Linked DNA regions of Homo sapiens. The protein of the gene in region 2 binds, or shares a complex with, the protein of the main gene of each other region. Links are inferred from orthologs where the notes say so. Each region holds a gene or a part of one and is shown on either strand. Other genes may lie near its edges.

Region 1 (7,042 bases), on a different chromosome or scaffold from region 2:
AGCAATTCTCCTACCTCAGCCTCCCTAGTACCTGGGACTACAGGCGCCCACCACCATGCCCGGCTAATTTTTGTATTTTTAGTACAGAAGTGCTTTCACCATGTTGGCCATGCTGGTCTCAAACTCCTGACCTCAGGTGATTCGCCTGCCTTGGCCTCCCAAAGTGGTGAGAAAACAGGTGTGAGCCACCACGCTCGGCCTTGAATTTGTTTTTAATTTGAATTTTCTGCATACCTTTTGACATAAACTATATTACATCATGTTTGGACAGAGTGGGGTGTAATAAAAGTAGAATATGGTGACTTAACATGTCACATTTTTAAGGAATGAGGCAGATAGGTATTATTATTGGGTAATACATTTATTTGTTGCCCCTCTTTTTGAGACTCTCAGGTATTCTAACTTCCACCTTTGTAGAACAGCCTGTTGAACCCAAGCTGCATGTTTGGACATTAGTGGTATATCTCGTAGGGACTTTTGAAGAAGAATATTGCATGAAGATTCAAAATATCAAAACTAACTTTGATTATGTAAGAATACATCTCCTTGGTTATTTCGTGTGCAAAGATTGGGATCACAAGATCGTGCAAGGACGTCAGCACATCTGGCAGTACTTGGTGTTCACAGAGTGCATACCTGGGTCTTTGTTTCATTTCCACTATAAATTTCTTAACTGTTTTTAATTTTTCCCTTCTGCAAGGCGTGCAATGGAATTGAGTTTTGCCCTGGTAAATGGGAATAATATCCGAGGCATGATGAAAGAATTACTTTATTTTCTGGATTCGTGTGAGCCAGAATTTAAAGCAGACTGTGCATCTGGAATCTTTCTTGCTGCAGAAAAGTAAGATTTAATTTTTACCTTTATTGGTAAAGTCTGCTTGGAACTTTTGGAAGTGTCTTTAAAACATGGGGAGGGGGCTGGGCGCGGTGGCACACGCCTGCAGTCTCAGCAGTTTGGGAGGCCAAGGCAGGTGGATCATGAAGTCAGGAGTTCGAGACCAGCCTGGCCAACATAGTGAAACCCTGTCGCCACTAAAAATACAAAAATTTGTTGGGCCTGGTGGCACGCGCCTGTAGTCCCAGCTACTCGGCAGGCTGAGGCAGGAGAATCACTTGAACCTGGGAGGTGGAGGTTGCAGTGAGCCAAGGTTATGCCACTGCACTCCAGCCTAGGTGACAGAGCAAGACTCCATCTCAAAAACAAAACAAAAAAAAAAAAATGGGGAAACTACTTTAAATATGTTTAAAACACATAACATTTATTTCAAACCCTCAATTATAAATTAGCTTGGAGAAGGCTATTATAGCCAGCATTTAAATATGCTGAGACCAAAAAAATTTCACACTTTTATGAAATCTTCTCCTTTATCTGTTCTTTAACCTCTCATCTATGATGCTGGTTTTTTTTGTTTTGGGTTTTTTTGAGACAGGGTCTCACTTTGTCACCTAGGCTGGAGTGCAGTGGCACAGTCTCGGCTCAGTGCAACCTTGACCTCCCAGGTTCAGGGGATCCTCCTGCCTCAGCCCCCCAAGTAGCTGGGACCATAGGCTTACGCCACCACACCCTGCTAATTTCTGGGTTTGTTTTTTTCTTTTTGTAGAGATGGGGTTTCGCTATGTTGTCCAGGCTGGTCTCGAACTCCTGGACTCAAGCGATTCGCCTGCCTCAGCCTCCCAAAGTGCTAGGATTACAGGCATCAGCCACCACACCTGGCCTGTGATGCTGTTTTAATAAAGGCAATAGAACAGTTACAGCACCTGAATTGCAGCTCTATGCAGAATTTTGAGGAAGTACCTTATGATTTTAGTAGTACAGCTATTCTTTCTCTTCTTTCCACTCTGAATTTAAGGAAACAAGTTTTTAGTCCAAATGTTGTCTTGGTCTGAAAACAGTCCCTTTTCTTCTTTCTTCTTTATCGTCTCCTGCCCTGACTGAATGATTCATTTTCTCTGAAACTGAAAACAAATCTCATTTCTCAGCTTAGCAACTCTTATTGCAATCTTATGGGAAACATCTGAGTTTGACTATGTACCCTCTTTTTTTTTTTTCTTTAATTTTAGAAACGGAGTCTTGCTCTGTCACCCAGGCTGGAGGGCAGTGGCCCAGTCATAGCTTACTGCAGCCTGGACTTCTGGGCTTAAGCCATCCTTCTGCCTCAGCCTCCTGAGTAGCTGGGACTGTAGCTGCAAATCATCATGTGCCACTAATTTTTTAATTTTTATTTTGTAGAGATGGGGTCTTGCTATGTTACCCAGGTTTGTGTGGAACTCCTGGCCTCAAGCACTCCTTCCTCCTTGGCGTCCCAAAGTACTGGGATTATAGGCATGAGCCACTGAAGTCAGTTGACTGTATACCTTTTTATCACTCTTTGAAATGGCATTTGCTGCTAGATTTGAAGTTGAAATGTTTCCAGATATGTTCACTTATCCAGGGAACCTAGAAAAGACTGTAGGACAGGATTTTCTTCTCTTTTCTTTTCCTTTCTTTTCCTTTCCTTCCTTTCTTTCTTTCTTTCTTTTTCTTTCTTTTCTTTCTCTCTCTTTTTTGTTCCTTCCTTCCTTCCTTCCTTCTTTCCTTCCATCTTCTTTCCTTCTTTCTTTTCTTTCTTCTCTTCTCTTTCTTCCCTTTCTTTTCTTTCTTCTGTTTCTTCTCTTTCTTTTCTCTCTCTTCTTTCTCACTGTAGCCTCAACCTCCTAGGCTCAGGCAATCCTCCTACCTCAACCTCCCAGAGTAGCTGAACTACAGGCACCCACCACCACACCCAGCTAATTTTTGTATTTTTTGGTGAGATGGAGTTTCACCGTGTTGCCCAGGCTGGTCTCGAACTCCTGAGCTCAGGTGATCTCCCACCTCGGCCTCCCAAGATGTTGGGATGACAGGTGTGAGTCACCCTGCTTGGGCAGGATTTTCTAGTCACTGAAAACGGTATATTTTACTGGTTCCAAGTGTCCCTTTCCATTGTTTTTTTCAGGTATGCACCTTCCAAACGATGGCATATAGACACAATTATGCGTGTTTTGACAACGGTAAGTAGCTTCTTTCAGACAGCATATACGAAGTGCTGGGATATACTGATGTTATCATGAAGTTTATGTTCTAGTCAGGGAGGTAAGAAATTCACAAGTAAATAGGTAACATTAATGTCAGTTAGGAATAAATGCCATGAAGAAAAACCTAAAGCAGCATGGAGGAATATAATGATGGCAGGATAAGGTGGGATATAGGGCAACTGGCCAAGTGTTTTAGATTAGAGTTAGTCAGGGAGGTCTCTCAGAGGAGATAACATTTGAGTAGAGACCTAAGAGACATGAGGTGCAAGCCATGCAGAGATCGTGAGGAATAGTGTACCATACGGAGGGAACCCTAAGTGCAAAGACCTGAGGTAGGAACAAGCATAGCTTGCTTGGAGAGCAACAGGAAGGCAAGTGAAGCCATAAAGTGAGAGAGGCAGAGAATGGTAGGATGGATGTCAGAGACATAAGCGGAGCCAGACTATGTAGGCCTCATGGGAGCTTGCATTTTATTTTGAATATGTTAGGAAGCCATTGCAGGGTTTTGAATGGCTAAAGTTACTCAGGATTTGAAATCCTGTTTTGGATGGGATCCTTTCTTTGGCATTCTTGCAGAAATTCAGGGTTTCTGTGTTTATTATTCAATTAGTAGGCAAGGATTAGGTATTTAAGAGTAAAAATGAAAGTGCAGTGACATGTAAAGAAAACCATTTCCATTAATTAAGTCACTAGAAGTAGCTACTGTAAAGGAAAAGCCACAAATTTAACCATATTAAAATTTAAAAATTGAATAACAAAAAGGGGAACAGTCTACGATTTAAAAGGCAAATTAACAACTGGGGAAAACATTAACTTATGACAGCATATTAATATATTCAATCTATGAATAATTTATAATTGATAGGAAATACCACTCTAATGGAAAAATTGGTATTTGAACCAGCAATTCATGAAGAAAGAAATGGCTAATTAACATTTGAAAAAATTTTCTTATTAAAGAAATAAAGTAAAATTGAGGTATCATTTTTCACATTTCGTATTTTTTAATCTAATTCCCAGTGTTAGAAAATAGAGAAACAGGCAGTACTCTTCACTTTATGGGAGTATAGGATGATGCCATCTTTTTACTATGCAGTTTGGTAGCATGTAGGAAAAGCCTTAAATTGTACCCTTTGATTCATTAATTCAATTTTTAGGACTTTAGCCTGAAAAAATAATAGGACAAGTACACAAAAATGTGTATGTAAAAGTATTCATCCTAATATTGTTTATAGTAGGAGAAAACCGGAAACAACTAGTAGTCCCCAAATGGGGATTAAGTAAATTATGAAACATCTGTAGGGAGAAAATTATATCATTGAAATTATGACTTATATGTATTTGTTGACTTATGAAATTATGACTTATATGTATATGTATTTGTTGCTGTGGAATTCTCTCTGGGGCATACTCGTTTTTTAGTTTACTTACAATGAATTAACTTGGTAAAAGGTTAAAAGTTAATAAATTTGATTAGCAAGGGGAAAAATTATAATCTAACAAAATGTAATTAACATAATGATGAACAGGACATGTTTTCCTAGTTTTCATGAGGCTCAAAAGAAGGGAGAAATTAACACTCCTGAAGGAAAGTGTTTATGAGAATTCAAAAGCTTTTTTTTTGTGCCCCTGATTTTATTTTTCTAACTGACTTGTGTTCTCTTATGATCATGTGATTTGTTTTCTTTAGCCTGTTACATGCTGGGTTACATTGATATTTGAATGCCTAACCAGCCTTACATACCTGGAATACGTGGTCAGGGTATATTATTCTTTTTATAACTTTGTTGGGTTTGATTTGCTAATATCTTGTTGAGTATTTTTATATGTGTATTCATGAGAGAGATTGGCTTATAGTTTTCTCTTATAATGTTGTTTTTGACCCATGTGTTATTTAGAAGTATGTTCTTTTAATCTCCAAATATTTTGGGATTTTTTTGCACCTGTCTTTGTGTTGCAGATTTCTAGTTTAATTCTGTGTGGTCTAAGAGCATACTGTCTATGATTTATGTTATTTGAAATTTGTTAAGATATTTTTTATGACCCAGAATATGGTCTTTCTTGGTTCAGTGTAAGTTTAAGAAAAATGTGTATTCTGCTGCTGTTGAATGAAGTAGTCTTATTATACAAACCCATTAGATCACCCTGATGCTTTCTTGTATTTAATGCACTCTGCTTTACGGAAGGATGTAAATAAACTATACTGCAAATTACCTGCTTTTTAGCTTCTCACCTTTCCTTCTGATCATTTTCCCAGAATTCTTCCTCTGTCTTTGTGTTTCTTAACAGGAGTGACCTGATAAAACCCTGATCACCTGGCTGTTTTTTTTTTTTTTTCTTTTTTTTCCTTTCCAAAATACACATGGTTAGGACTGGTCTCAGTCTTACAAATTAAATCTATTGTTCTATTTAGGAATGGGAGATTGACCAAGGTTGGGTGATAAAGTTTTAAACCTTTACATTATTATTATTATTATTATTATTGTTGGTAGTGATGGAGTCTTGCTGTGTGGCCCAGGCTTGTGTCAAACTCCTGGCCTCAAGCAGTCATCTTGCTTCAGCCATCCAAAGTGCTGCGATTACAGGTGTGAGCCACTGTGTCCAGCCTTCCTTTTTTAATTTGGACAAAGAGAAATTTTTTTTTTTTTTTTTTTGAGACGGAGTCTCAGTCTGTTGCTCAGGCTGGAGTGCAGTGGCGCAAACTCGGCTCACTGCAAGCTCGGCCTCCTGGGTTCACGCCATTCTGCTGTCTCAGCCTCCTGAGTAGCTGGGACTACAAGCACCCACCACATGCCCGGCTAATTTTTTGTATTTTTAGTAGAGACGGGGTTTCATCGTGTTAGCCAGGATGGTCTCGATCTCCTGACCTTGTGATCCACCCGCCTTGGCCTCCCAAAGTGCTGGGATTACAGGCGTGAGCCACCACACCCGGCCTTTGGACAAAGAGAAAATTTTTAAAAATAAAATAAAATTTAAAAATGTAACATATTTAAATAAGACTTTGAAGTTTGAGCTGTTATGAACCTGAGAATTGGAACCAAATTTATCTTTGAGGGTGTTTTCTGGTATTCTTCTTTTAAAAACAATAGTAATGGCTGGGCGCAGTGGCACACGCCTGTAATCCCAGCACTTTGAGAGGCCGAGGCAGGTGGATCATCTGAGGTCAGGAGTTCGAGACCACCCTGACCAACATGGTGAAACCCCATCTCTACTAAAAATAGAAAAAATTAGCCAGGTGTGGTGGCATGTACCTGTAGTCCCAGCTACTTGGGAGGCTGAGGCATGAGAATCGCTTGAACCTGGGAGGTGGAGGTTGCAGTGAGCCAAGATCGCGCTATCGCACTCCAGCCTGGGTGACAGAGCGAGACTCTGTCTCAAAAAAAGAAAGGAAAAAACACACAGTAATAATAATAGCTAACACTTGTTATCATCATTTCTGTGTGTTTCTAGGGGTAATTGTCTGCATTTCCTTTTAGGCAGGAAGTTATGTTCGTGATGATGCAGTCCCCAATTTAATCCAGTTAATAACTAATAGTGTGGAGATGCATGCCTATACTGTCCAGCGCCTGTACAAAGCAATTCTTGGTGATTATTCTCAAGTAAGTACTTCATTCAACTATTTTAGGGGGTAATTTTACCCTCAATTTTTCTGGTATGTTTTTCTTCTTTTTTTTCCCCCCTCCTCTCTCCCCTTTGGTATGTCTTTATTTCTAACACTCTAGATATGCACAGTTTTGATCTTTATTATGAGATGACCTATGATTTGCATTAAATAACTTTGGAAAAATTGAAGTTCTTGAGAAACGTTGACTTTTCTTTTCACAGCAACCTTTGGTACAAGTGGCTGCATGGTGTATAGGTGAATATGGTGATCTTCTTGTATCTGGCCAGTGTGAAGAGGAAGAGCCTATTCAGGTACTCCTTGTCACTCTTGGTTAAGTGGGGGAAAATAGTGGTTTTGGTTATAGGAGAGTAGTGTTTAATGGGGAGT
Region 2 (7,736 bases):
GGGCAGAGGAGACTTACACTGCCAAAGTATTTGTCTAAGAGCTCCACGTATCGGTGGATCAGCTCCAGTGTGATGAGCTCATTGTCTTGGCCCTCGATGGCGCAGCAGAAGTAGAGGCTGGCATATCTGCGGAGAGGAGCGCATGAGACATCGCTACAAGCTTGCTTCAGGACCCAGGCATTCTGGTCTCAAACCTCTCACCAGCCTGGAGGTGGTCTGTGCCCTGGCTGGCCACAGGTGAGGTGGCCCTAGGGCATGTAAAGAGTAACTCACCTGCCTCTTTGTGCTGTCTTAAAAACATGCAAAGAACGCATGCTTTTTCCTTCCTGCCCTCTGACCTCCTAAGTTTGACTCAGCAAAAACCTGAGCCAAGTAATTTACCTGCTCCGAGGAGAAGGAACCGGAAAGGGTGTGTGTGTGCGTGTGTGTTAGGAAAAGTAGGGCAGGACCTTTGACTGCAAGGGACATGCGCAGTGGGGCAAGACAGGGCCCAAAGGGACACGTGAGTGAGGCAGGTGTTGCACGTGAGCAAAACCAAGTGGTAAACAAGAACTTCTTTAAGAGTTTGGGGAGAAAAAAAAAAAAAAAAAAGGAAGCTGACATTCATTACTGTCCTCCAGATGTCCTCAGCTCCCAGGTCTCCCTGACCTACAGGACGACCATTTCTCAGACATTTTAACCCACTGCCCAACTTGAATCTAGGCAGGTCTGAAAGTAGGTGGGGAGTCACCTCTTATAGACAACTTTGAGGTCCCTCCACTCCAGGAAGCTGCACATCTTGGGCTTTCGAGCCAGGACAACCTGCATGAGCTCGCGCACCATCTTCTTCCGTTCCTTGTCCGAAGTGGCCAGGTACCATTTTTGCAGCCGCAGTTTTCCCTGCCGGCTGAATAATAGCATGAACCGCATCTGTGGGGGATGGGAGGGCAGAACCGAGGGTAACCACACATTCCCCAAACTTATCTCCAGCTAATTCTTCTCTACTTTCTTCCAACATCCAGCCCCTTGCTCTCAAGGCTGGGTGTTTCCACCAGCAGGGGGAAGTCAGAGCTTCTGAGTCTGTCAGCTGGGTTCAAATCCTGGCTCTACTAGTTATGCAAGGCCTTGGCCCAATTACTACTGTAAGTCTCTGGGCCTCAGTTTCCTTATGTGTAAAATGGACATTGTACCTGCCTTGCACAGTTGTTAGGTGAGACTAAATGATTTGATATATGCAAGTCCCTAGCACAGGCAGGCAGTATAACATGTTAGCTATTATTATTATTATTTTTGAGACAGAGTCTCTCTCTGTCGCCCAGGCTGGAGTGCAGTGGCGCAATCACTGTTCAGTGCAATCTCCGCCTCCCAAGTTCCAGCGATTCTCCTGCCTCAGCCTCCTGAGTAGCTGGGATTACAGTCACGTGCCATCACGCCCGGCTAATATTTGTATTTTTAGTAGAGATGTGGTTTCACCATGTTGGCCAGGCCCTGGTCTCGAACTCCCGACCTCAGGTGATCCACCCACCTAGGCCTCCCAAAGTGCTGGCATTAAGGCATGAGCCACTGCGCCCGGCCGTTAGTTATTACTATTATTACCATGATTCCCTGACCTCTTGCTTTCTGGTCTGCTTTCTAAAGGTAAGTAAAATGCCTAGCACAGTGACAAGACGACAGTAACCGACGCCAAAGAAATGCCTGTTCTCTTCCACCCTCTCTCTATCCATCACCATGCTGAAATCTGGTATTTTGTCCCTGGAGAAGCTACCTCAATTTTCCACCCCATCATAGCCATAAGATCTTAATGATCTCCCAAACATATCATCCTCCAGTGCCAGGCCTATGCCCAGGGGTATCCTCCTCTGTAGTATGTATCTCCAACACCACACAGGGTATGCAGATGCCCAAATCCTATCTTCCTCTCTGCAGGCACCCAGGCATTTGGTCTTCGACATTTCTCTTTAACTTTTCTTCCTTTTAGGGTGCCTCCTGCTAAGCGCCCACTCCTCCCCAGACACCAGGTGACCAATTTCCCTCAGTTAGGGCCCCGCCACCCAGGGGGTTCCCCTAAAAGAATGTCTGCAGAACAGACAGCAAGCTGGGTCAAGTGGGATGGAAGACAGAACCCTCACTGCCCAGTGTACCCCAGCTTCCCAGTTCCGGGGGGTCTGGGCCACATCCTGGAGTCTTCTCCTTACCCCAGTAGCTCTTCTATTCATGGACATGCCCAGGCTTGGAATCCCTGGGTGTGTGGCACTGTACTAGCTTAGTAAGTGAAAAATCAGAATTCAGGAGAACTGATTTTTTTGGTGGAGGGGAAAAGAGGGGCGCTGGGGAGCCTCGTGCGGCGCTCAAATAGGGGGGTGGGGAGCAAGCAGGAAGACGGAAGGCCTGGATTCCGGAAAGAGAATGGGAAGGGGGGCAGAGAGCCCCGGAGCCCGGGATCCCAAAGCCTGGGTCCCTCGGAGAAAAACCACGAGTCCACTTCGCTTCCCTACCTGGGCCCAGCCTCTAGGCAAGCACGGCCACGAACGCAGTAGGGCGCTCCCTTTTCCGACCCGGAAACTCCCCTCCCACACCCCTCTCCCCACCCGGGTCCCCGCTCCCGCCTGTGCAGCCCGGGAAGGGGGTCTCGGTGACTGGTGACCCCCGCTCCCTCCCTCAGCAAAGAGACTCCCGCAACCCTCTGCTTCGGGCGGCTTCCCTGCAGCGGGGATCGAGGGACCCCAGGGGCCAAGACCAGAGCGCCCCTCCCGGCTCGGGACGGCCCCGCCGCCCCTTCGTCAGCCCCCGCTCGCCCTGCAAATGCGCCCCCTCCCCGCCCCTCTCCCGAATGCCACCTCCCCCTCTTCCTCCCGAGCCCGGCTCGCCCACCCGCCGAGGCAAGGGAGGCCTCTGAGGACCAGAGGGAAGACAGGGCGGTTCACCCCGAGGGCGGCCCCCGAGGACCCCCGCAGGTGCAGCCCACGCCCCTCGCTTCCCCCTCCCCTCCCTCTTCGCACAGCCTACCATCCTGCAGCCTCCGGCTCGGCGCGTCCCACTTCGGCCACCGTAGGCGCCAGTCCCACTCCCTTTCTTATCCTTTCTCCTGCTGCCCTCCCTCTCGCCCGAAGCCCCGCCCCGTCCCGCCCAGGCTCTGACTCCCGGCGCGCCACGCACTGCGCAGGCGCCGACGCCGCGGGGAGCGCGGGCGGGGCTGGAGGCGGAGAAGCGGAAACCATGGCAACCAGGTCCTTGACTGCAGCTTCTAGGAGCCCGGTCGTCATGGTAACGCGGCTGTCCTGTGGGCTGGTTGGAGGATGGGGGAGGAGGACAATAAGGTCCTCGCGCTTTGGAGCCTTGTGGGGCAAAAAGGCGGGAAAAGGGGTGAGAGGTGAATGGGACGATCATTGGAGTTCGAAGCAGCAGGCAGGACTCCTGGAAGGGGAGTGGGCCGTGAAAAGGGAGCAGGGTGGGAATTAAGTGTAGGGGAGGAGGAGTGACCTGGAAAACAGAAAGACAAAGGGTCATGAGAAAAGTATAGAACCCAAGCTGAATATCTATTGAAAGCGTGATAGATACACCCCTCTAGTTTTTTTCTTTTTAGAGACAGGGTCTGGCCGCGTCACCCAGGTTGGAGTGCAGTGGTGGGATCGTGACTCTCTGCAGCCTTGAACTCCTGGCCTCAAGCGATCCTCCCGCCTCAGCCTCCTGAGTAGCTGGGACTACAGACGCACACCGTCATGCCCAGCTAATTTTTAATTTTTTTTTAGTAGAGACGGGGGTCTTACTATGTTGCCCAGGCTGGTCTCGAACTCTTGGGTTCAAGAGACCCTCCCGCCTCGGTTTCCCAAACTGCTGGGATTACAGGCGTGAGCCACCGCGCCTGGCTTCTGATTTTACAGTAAGAGAAATGTGTAGAAAAAGAATAAAAGAGAAAAGGAGAGGCTGCTATAAAAGGCATGTAAGGAGAAGGGGGAGGAACGTGAACTGAGGCAAAAGGGGAAGAAATAAAGAGCGTCTTAAAAGGTTAACTTGGGTCAAAACTCAAAAAGGGACAGATGTCACCCAAATCTCAGTGTGAAGATGAGGTGGATGTACGTTGTAATATGGGCTTTTAAACTGAATGTGTGTGTGTGTCTACATGTTACTGGAAAAAGGGGTCCCGATCCAGACCCCAAGAGAGAATTCTTGGATCTCATGCAGGAAGGAACCCAAAGCAAGTCGTAGAGTGCGATGAGAAGAGAGAGTTTATTGAAAGCTACACCCTTACGGAGTAGGGCGTCCTCAGAAAGCAAACAGAGGAACACACTGTCTTAAGTTTTTCTTTTCTTTCTTTCTTTTTTTTTTTCTTCTTTTTTTGAGACAGGGTCTTACTCTGTTGCCCAGGCTGGAGTGTAGTAGCATGATCATAGTTCACTGCAGCCTCCACCTCCTGAGCTCAAGCGATCCTCCCACTTCAGTCTCCCAAGTAGCTAGGACTACAGGCATGCACCACCACAGCCAGCTAATAGTTGTATGTTTTGTAGACACAGGGTATTGTCATGCTACCCAAGCTGGTCTGGGACTCCTGGACTCAAGGTATCCACACTCCTCAGCCTCCCAAAGTGTTGGGATTACAGGTATGAGCCACCGCCCCTGACCTTTAAGTTTTTCTTATATAGGGGTCTTGTTTTTGTAGAGACTAAACTAAGCCGAGTCAATGTGCAGATGGGCCAATGGCATGACAAAATTTATTATTCTGTTAATTTAACTATCCTTGACATTCTAGTAGGTAAGTACATCAAAGCAAAACTTAATTATCTTTCTTCCTTTTTTTTTTTTCTTGAGACAGAGTCTTGATCTGTTGCCCAGGCTGTAGTGCAGTGGCGTGATCTCAGCTCACTGCAACCTCCACCTCCTGGGTTCAAGCCATTCTTGTGTCTCAGCATCCCTAATAGCTGGATTACAGCTACATCCTTTCACCTCAGCCTCCCAAGTAGCTGTGACTGCAGGCATGAACCAGTGCATCCAATTAATTAAAAAAATATTTTGTTGTAGAGATGGGGTCTCACTACTGGGATTGTAGGCATGTGCTACGACACCCAGCTAATTTTTGTATCTTTAGTAGAGAGGGGGTTTTGCAATGTTGGCCAGGCTGATCTCGAACTCCTGGCCTAAAGCAATCCTGCCTTAGCCTCCACACCCAGCCAGAACTATAATTATCTTAAAGGCACATATTGTTATGGGTATTGGGGCATCTGGATTTTCTGTAGTTGGAGGAGTCTGTCCTTGCAGGTATCTTTAAGCTGTTTCCCCAACTGTAAACAGCTTTGGGTTGTGACTGACAAGGAATGTGCCTTGTTAGTTTCAAGATGGAGCTGAACTTAAAATGGCTTTATGCTGGCTCTCTGAGGCTCCTGCTTCCCTAGCACAAATGATAAAGTAAAGAGGTCTGGATAGAAGGATAAGAGAAAATCTTAAATTTTGTCATGCAGAAAAGTTAATGGTAGATAATTGTTGGCAACTAATGTGCTATTATTTTTGAGTAGCACATGATGCAATTGTTGGTAAGGCCTCACCTCCTGTCTCCACTTTATTTATTTATTTTGTGTATTTATTTTTTTGAGATGGAGTCTTGCTCTGTTGCCCAGGCTGGAGTGCAGTGGCACAATCTCGGCTCACTGCAACCTCCACCTCCCGGGTTCAAGTGATTCTCCTGATTCAGCCTCCTGACTCAGCCTTCTGTCTCAAAAAAAAAAAAAAAAAAAGAGGACAGTAGTACATATCTTGCAAGGTGGTTCTGAGGATTAGAGGTAATGTATAGCAAGTATCTGTAAACACTTCATAATGGTACCTATCATTTCCTCTTCCCAGACTCTTCCTTTTTTTTTTTTTTTTTTGTTGTTGTTGTTGTTGTTGAGACGGAGTCTCGTTCTTGTTGCCCACGCTGGAGTGCAGTGGCACGATCTCGGCTCACTGCAGCCTCCACCTCCCCGGATCAAGCAATTCTCCTTCCTCAGCCTCCCAAGTAGCTGGGACTACAGATATCTACCACCACACCCCGCTAAGTTTTATTTTTTTAGTAGAGATGGGGTTTCACCACGTTGGCCACGCTGGTCTCAAACTCCTGACCTCGAGTGATCTGCCTGCCTTGGCCTCTCAAAAGTTCTGGGATTACAGGTGTGAGCCACCGCGCCCGGGCCCAACTTCTTTCTTCTTTTACTTTTTCTTCTTCCTTTTGCTTTTGTTTTCTTTTCTCCTCTGCCTCCACCTTAGGCTTTTCAACACCATCGTCTAAGATATATGACATATACTAGTGGAATATCTTACCAGTGGCATAGATTATTGGCTGCCTGAACTATTGTGGTGCTACTTATTTATTTATTTATTTATTTTTTTTTTTTGAGACAGACTCTTGCACTGTCGCTCAGGCTGGACTGCAATGGTGTGATCTCGGCTCACTGCAACCTCCACCTCCTGGGCTCAAGTGATTTTCCTGCCTCGGCCTCCTAAGTAGCTGGGATTATAGGTGCATGCCACCACGCCCAGCTAATTTTTGTATTTTCAGTAGAGACGGGGTTTCACTATGTTGGCCAGGCTGGTCTCGAACTCCTGACCTCGTGATCCACCCGCCTCGGCCTCCCAAAATGCTGGGATTACAGGTGTGAGCCACCAAGCCCGGCAGCTATTTATTAGGTCAAGAATAAGATGGCACAGACAGTTAGCTGGCTGGACTATCCTGGTTGTGGGGAAAAGCAAGACAGATCAGATTGTTACTGTGTCTGTGTAGAAAGAAGTAGACATAGGAGACTCCATTTTGTTCTGTACTAAGACAAATTCTTCTGCCTTGAGTTTCTGTTAATCTATGACCTTACCCCCAACCCCGTGCTCTCTGAAACATGTGCTGTGTCAAACTCAGGGTTAAATAGATTAAGGGCGGTGCAAGATGTGCTTTGTTAAACAGATGCTTGAAGGCAGCATGCTCCTTAAGAGTCATCACCACTCCCTAATCTCAAGTACCCAGGGACACAAACACTGCGGAAGGCCGCAGGGACCTCTGCCTAGGAAAGCCAGGTATTGTCCAAGGTTTCTCCCCATGGGATAGTCTGAAATATGGCCTCGTGGGAAGGGAAAGACCTGACTGTCCCCCAGCCCGACACCCGTAAAGGGTCTGTGCTGAGGAGGATTAGTATAAGAGGAAGGCATGCCTCTTGCAGTTGAGACAAGAGGAAGGCATCTGTCTCCTGCCCGTCCCTGGGCAATGGAATGTCTTGGTATAAAACCCGATTGTACGTTCCATCTACTGAGATAGGGAAAAACCGTCTTAGGGCTGGAGGTGGGACATGCGGGCAGCAATACTGCTTTGTAAAGCATTGAGACGTTTATGTGTATGCATATCTAAAAGCACAGCACTTGATTCTTTACCCTGTCTATGATGCAAAGACCTTTGTTCACGTGTTTGTCTGCTGACCCTCTCCCCACTATTGTCTTGTGACCCTGCCACATCCCCCTCTCGGAGAAACACCCATGAATGATCAATAAATACTAAGGGAACTCAGAGGCTGGCGGGATCCTCCATATGCTGAACGCTGGTTCCCTGGGTCCCCTTATTTCTTTCTCTATACTTTGTCTCTGTGTCTTTTTCTTTTCCAAATCTCTCGTTCCACCTAACGAGAAACACCCACAGGTGTGGGGGGCAACCCACCCCTTCACCTGGTATCATTTGTAGGTCAAGAATAAGATCAATAAAGCAAGTTGTTAGGATTAGAAAGGATAAATCATATGGAATGAAAGCAAGG
Region 3 (3,538 bases), on a different chromosome or scaffold from region 2:
TAAACTCACTTTGTTGATTTTCTTTATTGAGTGTTTCTTTTCCATTTTCTTTGTATCTACTCCCTATTATTTCCTTCTTTCTGTGCTCTTACATTTATTTTGTTGTTCTTTTTCTAACTTCTTGAGATGGAGGCTTAGATCATTATTTTAGCCTTTATATATGTATATATGTGTACACATTTAATATCTACTCATATATATTTCTTTCTTTTTGAGATGGAGTTTTGCTCTTGTTGCCCAGGCTAGAGTGAAATGGTGAGATCTTGGTTCACTGAAACCTCCGCCTCCCAGGTTCGAGTGATTCTCCTGCCTCAGCCTCCCGAGTAGCTGGGATTACAGGCACATGCCGCTGTGCCCGGCTAATTTTTGTATTTTTAGTAGAGATGGGGTTTCACGATGCTGACTTCAGGTGATCCACCTGGGCTGGCCTCCCAAAGCGCTGGGATTACAGGCTTGAGCCACCTCGCCCAGCCTAGAATTGTAACTCTCAAACATTCAAAGGAAAACAATGACTTTATTTTTATTTTTTAAATTATTTATTTATTTTAGCCCCCTGCCTTTTTAAATATAAGCTCTCATCATTCAAGCAATGACTTTTTTTAAAAGCCACAAACAATCTGTAATAAATCCAGAGAGGACATAAAAGAGAACATAGAAAGGACAAAAATAGAAAACAAAGTAAGACGGTAGATTTAAATTTATACTTAAATGTAATATCAGTTATTACATTAAATGTAAAGGGACTTAATGCTCCAGCTAAAAGTCATTTTGTCAAACTGAATTTTAAAAATTCCAACTCTACGCTATTTTCCCCCCCAAATGCTGTCACACTCCTAGGAACAGAGAGGTCATTCTGGGTGGAATTCTGGTCTCCCCGCACTTTGGGAGGCCGAGGCAGGTGGATCACTTGAGGCCAGGAGTTCTAGACCAGCTTGGCCAATATGGTGAAACCACAACTCTATAAAATTACATAAATTAGCTGGGTGTGGTGGCGTGCACCTGTAATCCTGGCTACTCAGGAGGCTGAGGCAGGAGAATTGCTTGAACCCAGGAGGTGGAGGTTGCAGTGAGCTGAGATCACGCCACTGCACTCCAGCCTGGGCGACAGAGTGAGACTCTGTCTCAAAAAAACAAAACAAAGAAGAAAAGCAAAGTTACAGTGCTAAAATAATAAAAATGTTTTAGCTCCCTTAGATAGTAAAATGCATACTTATCAAAATGCAGATTTGGCTGGGCGCAGTGGCTCATGCCTGTAATCCCAGCACTTTGGGAGGCCGAGGCGGGCGGATCACCTGAGGTCGGGAGTTTGAGACCAGCCTGACCAACATGGAGAAACCCCGCCTCTACCAAAAATACAAAGTTAGGCAGGCCTGGTGGCGCATCGTGTAATCCCAGCTACTCAGGAGGCTGAGGCAGGAGAATAGCTTGAACCCGGGATGCAGAGGTTGCAGTGAGCAAAGACCGCGCCATTGCACTCCAGCCTGGGCAACAAGAGCGAAACTCCGTCTCAACAACAACAACAACAACAACAACAACAACAAACAACAAATTTTATCCATGTTATTTATTTATTTATTTATTTATTTTGAGACGGAGTCTCGCTCTGTCGCCCAGGCCGGACTGCGGACTGCAGTGGCGCAATCTCGGCTCACTGCAAGCTCCGCTTCCCGGGTTCACGCCATTCTCCTGCCTCAGCCTCCGGAGTAGCTGGGACTACAGGCGCCCGCCACCGCGCCCGGCTAATTTTTTGTATTTTTAGTAGAGACGGGGTTTCACCGTGTTAGCCAGGATGGTCTCGATCTCCTGACCTCGTGATCCGCCCGCCTCGGCCTCCCAAAGTGTATCCATGTTATTTATTCTCCTCCCAGACAGTCATTAACTTGGAACATTTTAACTCAGTTTACTCCCTGCAGACTTTTTTTCCTGTTGTATAATTCTATCACTTAAAAAAACTCCAGAAACTGTTTATGCAATCTTTGTCTAGATTTTCTCATGTATTTTCTACTTCTTTGCTTTTATTTCTTCTTGCATCATGCCCTTCCGTCTGAGATCACTTTCCTTGTGCCTGATGTGAGTACACTGTTTACAATTTTCTTTAGTGTTAGCCTGCTGCTGGCAAACTCTTTCGTTATTTGTCTGCAAAATGTTTTTACTGTAACCTCATTCTTGAAATACTTTTGCTGGGTCTCTGATTTGGGTTAGTGGTTTTCTTTTAGCATGTTGAAAATGTCACCCAACTGTTTTCTGGGTTCCTTTGAAAAGCCAGCTGTCTGTCTGTCTGGTTGTCATGTCTGAAGGTGATGTGTCTTTACCTCTGGCTGCTTTAAGTATCTTTTGCCTTTTTCCCCTTTGTGAATGTTTTTGCTGAAGTGTAACATATACACAAAAGAGTGTGCAAATCATCAATGCTTGATGGATTCTCGAGAGCACACCCATGTCACCTGCATCCAGATTGAAAAATATTCTCTAATTATTTATTTGGAGACAGACTCTCGTTTCGTTGCCCAGGCTGGAGTGCAGTGGCACAATCTCAGCTCACTGCAACCTCTGCCTCCAGGGTTCAAGCCATTCTTGGGCCTCAGCCTCCTGAGTAGCTGGGATTTACAGGCGTGTGCCACTACACCTGGTTAATTTTTGTATTTTTAGTAGAGATGGATTTTCGCCATGTTGGCCAGGCTGGTCTCGAACTCCTGAGCTCAAGTGATTCACCTGCTTCAGCCTCCTAAAGTGCTGGGATTATAGACATGAGCCACTGCACCTGGCCATTCTCTAATATTTTCTAACTTCCATTATATTTTCTTCTTTGACACATGGTGATTGAAAAATGTGCTTTAAAATCTCTCATATTGGCTGGGCATGGTGACTCACACCTGTAATTCCAGCACTGTGGAGGCTGAGGCAGGTGGATCACTTGAGCCCAAGTGCAAGACCAGCCTGGGCAACATGGCAAAACTCCATCTCTACTAAAAATACAAAAAAAAAAAAAAAATAGCTGAGCTTGGTGGTGCTCACCTGTAATCCCAGCTACTTGTGAGACTGAGATGGGAGGACTATTTCAGCCTAGGAGGCCAAGGTTGCAGTGAGCTGACATCGTGCCACTGACTGCACTCCAGCCTGGGCAACAGAGACCCTTTCTCAAAACAAAAACAAAAACAAAAACAAAAACAAAAACAAAAAAAACCTCTCATATTTGGAAATATTTTAAAGTAATTTATTTCTTGTTGAATTCTAACTAATTTCTCTTGAAAATTCCTCAGAGAGTGGGAACTCTAATAATAATTCTTGGAGTTGTGTGGAAACTTCTCGGGGATCTAATACATTTTTTCTTTTGCTTTCTTGCTTTAAAGTCTATTCTGGCCGTGTGTGGTGGCTCACACCTGCCACTAGCACTTTGGGAGGCCAGTGGGGGTGGATCACCTGAGGTCAGGGTTCAAGACCAGCCTGGCCAACATGGCAAAACCCTGTCTCTACTAAAAATAAAAAAAATACAAAAATAAAAAAATTTAGCCAAGCATGGTGGTGCATGCCTGTAATCCCA

The links. The genes of interacting proteins can lie anywhere in the genome.
Region 1: the proteins of AP1S1 (region 2) and AP1G1 are in contact, whole or in part, in a crystal structure (PDB 1W63), measured with the Mus musculus proteins. The link is inferred for Homo sapiens from one-to-one orthologs. Residues at the interface, in NP_031483.1 of Mus musculus: Met1, Leu14, Arg15, Leu16, Gln17, Lys18, Trp19, Leu21, Ala22, Thr23, Asp25, Arg28, Lys29, Arg42, Lys45, Met46, Cys47, Ser48, Phe49, Glu51, Lys56, Gln74, Asp75, Asn76, Glu77, Leu78, Ile79, Leu81, Glu82, Leu83; in NP_001288140.1 of Mus musculus: Leu7, Arg8, Ile11, Arg12, Arg15, Leu54, Tyr55, His57, Met58, Gly60, Tyr61, Lys78, Phe79, Thr80, Arg83, Ile84, Leu87, Met90, Leu91, Asp94, Glu95, Thr115, Phe117, Leu123, Cys124, Gly127, Cys128, Tyr152, Lys155, Lys156.
Region 3: the proteins of AP1S1 (region 2) and AP1M1 are in contact, whole or in part, in a crystal structure (PDB 1W63), measured with the Mus musculus proteins. The link is inferred for Homo sapiens from one-to-one orthologs. Residues at the interface, in NP_031483.1 of Mus musculus: Lys26, Lys30, Arg33, Glu34, Gln37, Lys43, Glu51, Trp52, Arg53, Asp54; in NP_031482.1 of Mus musculus: Lys12, Glu31, Asn186, Asn188, Val189, Leu190, Glu232, Glu234, Asn270, His272, Arg421.

Annotation. Positions count from the first base shown.
Region 1 is NC_000016.10:71,749,818-71,756,859, reverse strand, and holds part of AP1G1 (AP-1 complex subunit gamma-1), read left to right. Parts: intron 1-700; coding exon 701-841; intron 842-2,972; coding exon 2,973-3,027; intron 3,028-6,527; coding exon 6,528-6,650; intron 6,651-6,876; coding exon 6,877-6,966; intron 6,967-7,042. UniProt on the Homo sapiens protein: Subunit of clathrin-associated adaptor protein complex 1 that plays a role in protein sorting in the late-Golgi/trans-Golgi network (TGN) and/or endosomes.
Region 2 is NC_000007.14:101,149,767-101,157,502, reverse strand, and holds the start of AP1S1 (AP-1 complex subunit sigma-1A), read right to left. Parts: upstream 3,028-7,736; 5' UTR 2,989-3,027; coding exon 2,986-2,988; intron 910-2,985; coding exon 731-909; intron 127-730; coding exon 18-126; intron 1-17. UniProt on the Homo sapiens protein: Subunit of clathrin-associated adaptor protein complex 1 that plays a role in protein sorting in the late-Golgi/trans-Golgi network (TGN) and/or endosomes.
Region 3 is NC_000019.10:16,242,886-16,246,423, reverse strand, and holds the end of AP1M1 (AP-1 complex subunit mu-1), read right to left. Parts: 3' UTR 518-3,538; downstream 1-517. UniProt on the Homo sapiens protein: Subunit of clathrin-associated adaptor protein complex 1 that plays a role in protein sorting in the trans-Golgi network (TGN) and endosomes.